Homo sapiens: one gene and its partner. Each later gene encodes a partner of the first gene's protein in a complex. Each region holds a gene or a part of one and is shown on either strand. Other genes may lie near its edges.

The links.
Region 2: MED1 (region 1) and MED16 share a complex: the UniProt entries of both Homo sapiens proteins name them as parts of the mediator complex.

Annotation. Positions count from the first base shown.
Region 1 is NC_000017.11:39,409,723-39,413,534, reverse strand, and holds part of MED1 (mediator of RNA polymerase II transcription subunit 1), read left to right. Parts: intron 1-2,813; coding exon 2,814-3,812. UniProt on the Homo sapiens protein: Component of the Mediator complex, a coactivator involved in the regulated transcription of nearly all RNA polymerase II-dependent genes.
Region 2 is NC_000019.10:868,982-872,793, forward strand, and holds part of MED16 (mediator of RNA polymerase II transcription subunit 16), read right to left. Parts: intron 3,138-3,812; coding exon 2,945-3,137; intron 2,273-2,944; coding exon 2,056-2,272; intron 1-2,055. UniProt on the Homo sapiens protein: Component of the Mediator complex, a coactivator involved in the regulated transcription of nearly all RNA polymerase II-dependent genes.

The DNA of each region.
Region 1 (3,812 bases):
AATCCAGCACTTTGGGAGGCCAAGGCGGGCAGATTACTTGAGGTCAGGAGTTCGAGACCAGCCTGGCCAACATGTTGAGATGTCATCTCTATAAAAATACGAAAATTAACCGAGCATGGTGGTATCCGTCTGTCATTCTAGCTACTTGAGAGGCTGAGGCAGGAGAATCACTTGAACCTGGGAATCGGAGGTTGCGGTGAGCCAAGATTGCGCCACTGTTCTTTAGCCTGGGTGATAGAGTGAGATTCTGTCTCAAAACAAACAAACTAACTAAATAAATAAAAATATAAAAATTAGCCAGGTGTGGTGGCAGGTGCCTATAATCCCAGCTACTCAGGAGGCTGAGGCGGGAGAATTGCTTGAACCTGGGAGGCGGAGGCTGCAGTGAGCCGAGATTGTGCCACTCCACTCCAGCCTGGTAGACAGAGCAAGATGCCATCTCAAAACAAACAAAAAGCCAACTTAATTGTTACGTGATAGTTAAGCCAGTATGCATCCCAGAACCATTAATATGTAATTTTTTGAGATTTTTCTACAGCTGGGTCTGGCAGCCTATTTTTGTAAATAAATTTTATTGGAACACTGCTGTTCATTTACATGTCTGTGGCAGATTTCTAGTTAATATTGCAGAGTAGGTGAACAGGAAACAAGACCTACAAAGCCTAACGGATTACTATATGGCCTTATAAGAAAAATTTGCGGCCGGGTGCGGGGGTCACCCCTGTAATCCTAGCACTTTGGGAGGCTGAGGCGGGTAAATCACGAGGTCAGGAGTTCAAGACCAGCCTGGCCAAGATGGTGAAACCCCATCTCTACTAAAAATACAAAAATTAGCTGGGCGTGGTGGCGGGCTTCTGTAATCCCAGCTACTTGGGAGGCTGAGGCAGAGAATTGCTTGAACCTGGGAGGCGGAAGTTGCGGTAAGCCAAGATCATGCCACTGCACTCCAGCCTGGATAACAGAGCGAGACTCTGTCTCAAAGAAAAAAAAAAAAAAAAAAAGAAAAATTTGCTGGCTGGGTGTGGTGGCTCACGCCTATAATCCCAGCACTTTGGGAGGTGGGTGGATCGCCTGAGGTCAGGAGTTCGAGACCAGCCTGACTGACATGGAGAAACCCTGTCTCTACTAAAAATACAGAATTAGCTGGGCGTGATGGCGCATGGCTGTAATCCCAGCTACTCGAGAGGCTGAGGCAGGAGAATCACTTGAACCTGGGAGGTGGAGGTTGCAGTGAGCCAAGATCGCGCCATTGCACTCCAGCCTGGGCAACAAGAGCAAAACTCCGTCTCAAAAAAAAAAAAAAAAAGAAAAAAAAATTTGCTGACATATGTTCTAGAGCAAAACGTTTGCAAACTGAGGTTTATGAATATAAATTTATCTGGAAAATAAAAAGTGCTTTGCTTTAAAATAAACAAGATTTATAACAGAAATAGCACTTTTTATAATAGTGTAGGTTTGGGATGATCTAAGTCATTAAGGTTTAGTACTTAATGGGTCAAGAGATTTTTCTTTTCTTTTTTTTTTTTTTGAGATGGAGTCTTGTACTGTCACCTGGGCTGGAGTGCCATGGCACAATCTCAGCTCACTGCAACCTCTGCTTCCCGGGTTCAAGCAATTCTGCCTCAGCCTCCCAAGTAGTTGGGATTACAGGCACCTGCCACCATGCCCAGCTAATTTTTTGTATTTTTTCTTTTTTTTAGTAGAGATGGGGTTTCACTATGTTGGCCAGGCTGGTCTCAAAACTCCTGACCCTGTGATCCACCCGCCTCGGCCTCCCAAAGTGCTGGGATTACAGGCGTGAGCCACTCTGACCGGCGGAGATTTTTCTAATGGTTCCTTAATTAAAATAAATTATGTATCCCTGTAATTACCATATGAAGCCCCCCAGAGGACGACATTTTCTTTTTTCCTTTGAAATGAAGTCTTGCACTGTCACCAAGGCTGGCGTGCAATGGGACGATCTTGGCTCGCTGCGATCTCTGCCTCCTGGGTTCAAGTGATTCTCCTGTCTACCCTTCCTGAGTAGCTGGGATTACAGCTGTGCACCGCCACGGCTGGCTAATTTTTTGTATTTTTAGTAGAGACAGGGTTTCACCCCGCTGGCCAGGCTGGTCTCAAACTCCTGACCCGAAGTGATCCACCCTCCTCGGCCTTCCAAAGTGCTGGGATTGCAGGAGTGAGCCACCGCGCCCGACCTAAGGAGGCATTTTTTTTTTTGAGACGGAGTCTCACTCTGTTGCCAAGCTGGAGTGCAGTGGTGTGATCTCAGTGCAATGCAACCTCCGCCTCCCTTGTTCAAGCAATTCTCCTGCCTCAACCTCCCGAGTAGCTGGGATTACAGGCACGCGCCACCACGCCCAGCTAATTTTTGTATTTTTAGTAGAGACGGGGTTTCACCATGTTGGCCAGGATGGTGTCGATCTCCTGACCTCATGTTCCAGCCGCCTTGGCCTCCCAAAGTGCTGGGATTACAGGCGTGAGCCACTGTGCCCGGCCCCTAAGGAGGCATTTTCTTACTGAGTTCCATTATTACCAATTTTCTTTTAGTTAAGTTTGAAATTCAATTATTTGGACTCTTGTTTATAGTTTGCTTTTGTTGTGTGATTCATAAGAGGTTGACAATTTTATGTTGGGTTAGATTTTTAGAATGTATTTACCCAAAGCTCTGGTATTTGATAGAACTATTTTTGTCTTACAGATTATTTGCCCTACCTGAAAACTGCTTACTGCAAAACTCTGATGTTATATCTAAATCTCAGGTCTCATTCAGCAGCTATTGCAATGTTAACTTTGTTTTCTTCTTTATTTTGCAGATGTATGTCCATCCCTGTGACGATGAGGGCTATTCGGAGGAAAGCTGAAACCATTCAAGCCGACACCCCAGCACTGTCCCTCATTGCAGAGACAGTTGAAGACATGGTGAAAAAGAACCTGCCCCCGGCTAGCAGCCCAGGGTATGGCATGACCACAGGCAACAACCCAATGAGTGGTACCACTACACCAACCAACACCTTTCCGGGGGGTCCCATTACCACCTTGTTTAATATGAGCATGAGCATCAAAGATCGGCATGAGTCGGTGGGCCATGGGGAGGACTTCAGCAAGGTGTCTCAGAACCCAATTCTTACCAGTTTGTTGCAAATCACAGGGAACGGGGGGTCTACCATTGGCTCGAGTCCGACCCCTCCTCATCACACGCCGCCACCTGTCTCTTCGATGGCCGGCAACACCAAGAACCACCCGATGCTCATGAACCTTCTTAAAGATAATCCTGCCCAGGATTTCTCAACCCTTTATGGAAGCAGCCCTTTAGAAAGGCAGAACTCCTCTTCCGGCTCACCCCGCATGGAAATATGCTCGGGGAGCAACAAGACCAAGAAAAAGAAGTCATCAAGATTACCACCTGAGAAACCAAAGCACCAGACTGAAGATGACTTTCAGAGGGAGCTATTTTCAATGGATGTTGACTCACAGAACCCTATCTTTGATGTCAACATGACAGCTGACACGCTGGATACGCCACACATCACTCCAGCTCCAAGCCAGTGTAGCACTCCCCCAACAACTTACCCACAACCAGTACCTCACCCCCAACCCAGTATTCAAAGGATGGTCCGACTATCCAGTTCAGACAGCATTGGCCCAGATGTAACTGACATCCTTTCAGACATTGCAGAAGAAGCTTCTAAACTTCCCAGCACTAGTGATGATTGCCCAGCCATTGGCACCCCTCTTCGAGATTCTTCAAGCTCTGGGCATTCTCAGAGTACCCTGTTTGACTCTGATGTCTTTCAAACTAACAATAATGAAAA
Region 2 (3,812 bases), on another chromosome or scaffold:
GCACCACGAGGCCAGGTTCCGGCAGGGGCATCTGTCCACAGGCGGGGGTGGAGGGAATGGCCGGCCTCACACCATCTGCCAGGTGGGCCCAGATGTCTGTGAACAGTGAGGTGGGAGGTGCGGGACCACCTGAGACAGGCCCAGTAAAGGGGGCGGGACCCCCCACACGGAGGAGGGTTGGTCTCCCAGGTGCCTGGGGAGCTTGAGGCTTAGAGACCCAGTAAAGGGGACGGGGCCCACACAGGGACGAGGGTCGGTCCGCCACGTGCCCGGGGAGCCTGAGGTGCAGGGAAGGTGCTTGTGACGCTCCCATTTGAGGCTGGACAGAAGCAGGTACATGGGGACTTCCACACCACCTCTGCCCAGACACCCGGCCTGGAGGTGCCGGGACCTCTGAACGACAAGATTCTGGTGGCAAAAGCTGCCCTCGGTGGTGGGTGGGGGACCTGGGTCTGGGTGGGGGTGGGCCGGCTTATTCTGCTCTCATTAAATATCTGAAATTTTCCCAGTTTACAAGCCTCTGACGTAACCGTCCTCTCTTTCCATCAAGTCTTTTCCTGAAACCCAAACCCTCGTGTGTGACTCATTAGGAGGCCCCTCCCACAGTGAGCACGAGGAAGAAAATGCTGGAGGTCCTAGAGCCAAGCCAGGGCGCCTTCCCGGAGGTCCCGGAGCCAAGCCGGGGGTGCCTTCCCTGGAGGTCCTGGAGCCGAGCCGGGGCCTTCCCCGGAGCAGGGCTGCTGGAGGTTCACTTCATTTTCTTCCTTTTGCTCATCTGTGTTTTCTAAAATTCCAGCCCTGAGCAATCAGTGGCTCAGAGGGTTTGCATGTGCTCCTTGTCAAACGTGTGTCTGAAACAGGCTGGGGGTCTGACGGGCCTGGGTTCAAATCCTGACTCGGCCACTTCCTGACCGCGTGACCCCAGATGAGTGGGGTGACAAGGTCCCACCCTTTCCAGGCTGGGTTTCCTCACCGTGAAATGGGGTGACAAGGTCCCACCTCACAGGGCTGCTGGGCAGCCAGGGTCAGCTCAGCACACTTGGGTTGCCCAAACCCCGCACATTCCAGAGAAAGGCCAGCCCCGGGCCCTGCAAGGTGACCTCTTGCCCCCGGGAGATCCTCCTGATGAGGTGTCTGCTCAGCAGGGCCCTGGGCCATATGCTAAGGCGTCTCTCTCCATCCACAGAGGGATCTACGGCGAGGCCTGACATCCAGGGGGGCCAGAGACTAAGGGCAGAGGCTAAGGCAGGGCGCCCTGTACAGCGAGGCCAACACACAATCAGGAAACACCAAGGCAAGGCCGGGGCGGTGGCTCACACCTGTAATCCCAGCACTTTGGGAGGGCGAGGCAGGTGGATCACCTGAGGTCAGGAGTTCAAGACCAGCCTGGCCAACATTGCAAAACCGCCTCTATACCAAAAATACAAAAAATACCTAGGTGTGGTGGCTCATGCCTGTAATCCCAGCTACTGGGAAGGCTGAGGTAGGAGAATCATTTGAACCCGAGAGGCAGACGTTGCAGTGGGCCAAGACGGCACTACTGCACTCCAGCCTGGGCAACAGAGTGAGACCCTGTCGGGGAGACAAAAAAAAAAAAAAAAAGGGAGAGGGTGAATGGAAGGGCTGGGTGCCCGTGTTGGGGGTGGTTCGTGACACAGCAGAAGACACCACTAGGGGATGGAGTTAGGGGCACCTAGAAGGAAGCAGCAGTCATGGCCATGACTGGAGAACATGGAGGGAAGGAGCCGTATGGATTCGGGGGGGTCCTGGGGCAGGACATGGAGGGAGGGAGCCGTGTGGATTCGGGGGGACCCGGGGCAGGACATGGAGGGAGGGAGCCGTGTGGATTCGGGGGGTCCCGGGGCAGGACATGGAGGGAGGGAGCCGTGTGGATTCGGGGGGTCCCGGGCAGGACATGGAGGCGGGGAGCCGTGTGGATTCGGGGGGACCTGGGGCAGGACATGCAGGGAGGGAGCCGTGTGGATTCGGGGGTCCCGGGGCAGGACACGGAGGAAGGAGTCCTGTGTTTGGGGACCAATGCAGGGACACACGCACCTGGCGAGGCCGTCGAGCTGCAGGGTGGCAGCACTGCCAGGCAGCGTGGGCGCCCGGCCAAACTGCAGACGAAGGGGCTGCTTGGGCTGCAGGCGGCTAACCAGGCCGTCGCTGGCTGGCAGCCAGTCCAGGCTGGGGATAAGCAGCTGGCTGGGCAGCAGGCAGCATTCATCCACCAGCGCCTCGTCCGGCTCGCTCGCTGGGCCCTCATCGCGACCTGCGGAGAGAGGTGGCGGAAGTCTCAGCACCCCTGACTGGGGCACCGCCCGGCCACCCGGGACGTGCTGGGAGCCCCTCCAGTTCAGGAGCACCAGGTCAGGGCCCCAGCTCTGTCTGCCTGGCTGGGTGACCCCGGGGTTCTCTCACCAGGTCGGGGCCCCGGCTCTGCCTGCCTGGCTGGGTGACCCCAGAGTTCTCTCCCCGTCTCTGGCCTGTCATGAGACTCCCTCATTCACTTAAAAAGTATGTGGGAAGCACTGTGCCTTTTCCAGACACTGGGATGTAAGAATGACACAGCTCACCCTCCTCACATACACACAACCCGACAAGGAGAGACAGCAAACAGGTGCCTGGAAGTGGCTGCCATCCCAAAAGCACCCACACAGAGCATGGACCTGTGCTAGGAACTGGGGAAATAGCAGATATCAAGGCAGAGCCACTGCCACCTGCAGGGGCTTATGTTCTGGCGGGGGGCTCAGGCAGGACTTGTGTTTTGGTAGGGAGAGGGGAGCGGGGAGAGGGGAGAGGGGAGAGCGGGGAGAAGGGAGAGCGGGGAGAGGGGAGAGCGGGGAGAGGGGAGAGCGGGGAGAGGGGAGAGCGGGGAGCGGGGAGCGGGGAGAGGGGAGAGCGGGGAGCGGGGAGAGGGGAGGGGCGGGCGGGGGTGCCTCACAGCAGATCCAGAGCTTGGTGAGCAGGCGGAAGAGCAGGGACATGCTGTCCTGGGTATCCGAGGTGGCCGTATACACGGGCAGGCAGCTGGGCTTCAGAAGGCCCCAGATGCGGATGACCACCATCAATTCCCGAAGCATGCCCAGCGAGGTGCCGTCCCGCAGAAAGCTGTGGCCCGGCCTCAGCAGGGAACCCTGCCCGAAAGAGGCATCGGTGTGGCTGGGGCGGCGGGGGGCAGATGGCGATGGGATGAAGTGTCTTGGGGTCGGTGGAACCCCGACCGGGGGGCAATGGGCAGGGTCTGGGACATTTGTGGTGGTCAGGACTGGGGTGCTTCTGGCACCGAGTGGGTGGATGCCGGGGACGCTGCTCAGAGCCCTGCAGGGCCCAGGACAGCCCCATTTGCAGAGTCGTCCCATCCCTGAGAGTCCACAAGACTAAGACGAGGCTCTGGCTGAGGCCAATATCCCCACCTGCACGTGGAGGAGCAGCCGCCCCCTCCTACAGCTGCGGGCCCGGGCCCCTGGTGACTGTACTGGGAGCTGAGAGGACCAGGGAAGGGAGGCCCCAGGGGTGGCCCCTGGCAGCCTAAAGCCCCACAAAAAGAAGAGAGGGACTTCAAACCGTCCGTGATGGGCGCGGTGGAGAAGGGCGGGCCCCAGGGCAGGATGAAGCCGGGTGGGTGGGGCAGAAGAAATCACAGCTGGGGCAGGACAGAGTGTACCGGCGGGGGGGTGGGGGCGAGGTTGGAGCCCTGGTCAGGGGCGCACAAGCCGCAGAACTGAAGGTGGAGGTGTGGATGGAGACTTGATTTCAAGGCCGCCCACCCCAGGCGCAGGGAGCTGGGGAGGGTAAGGGGTGGGGGCAGC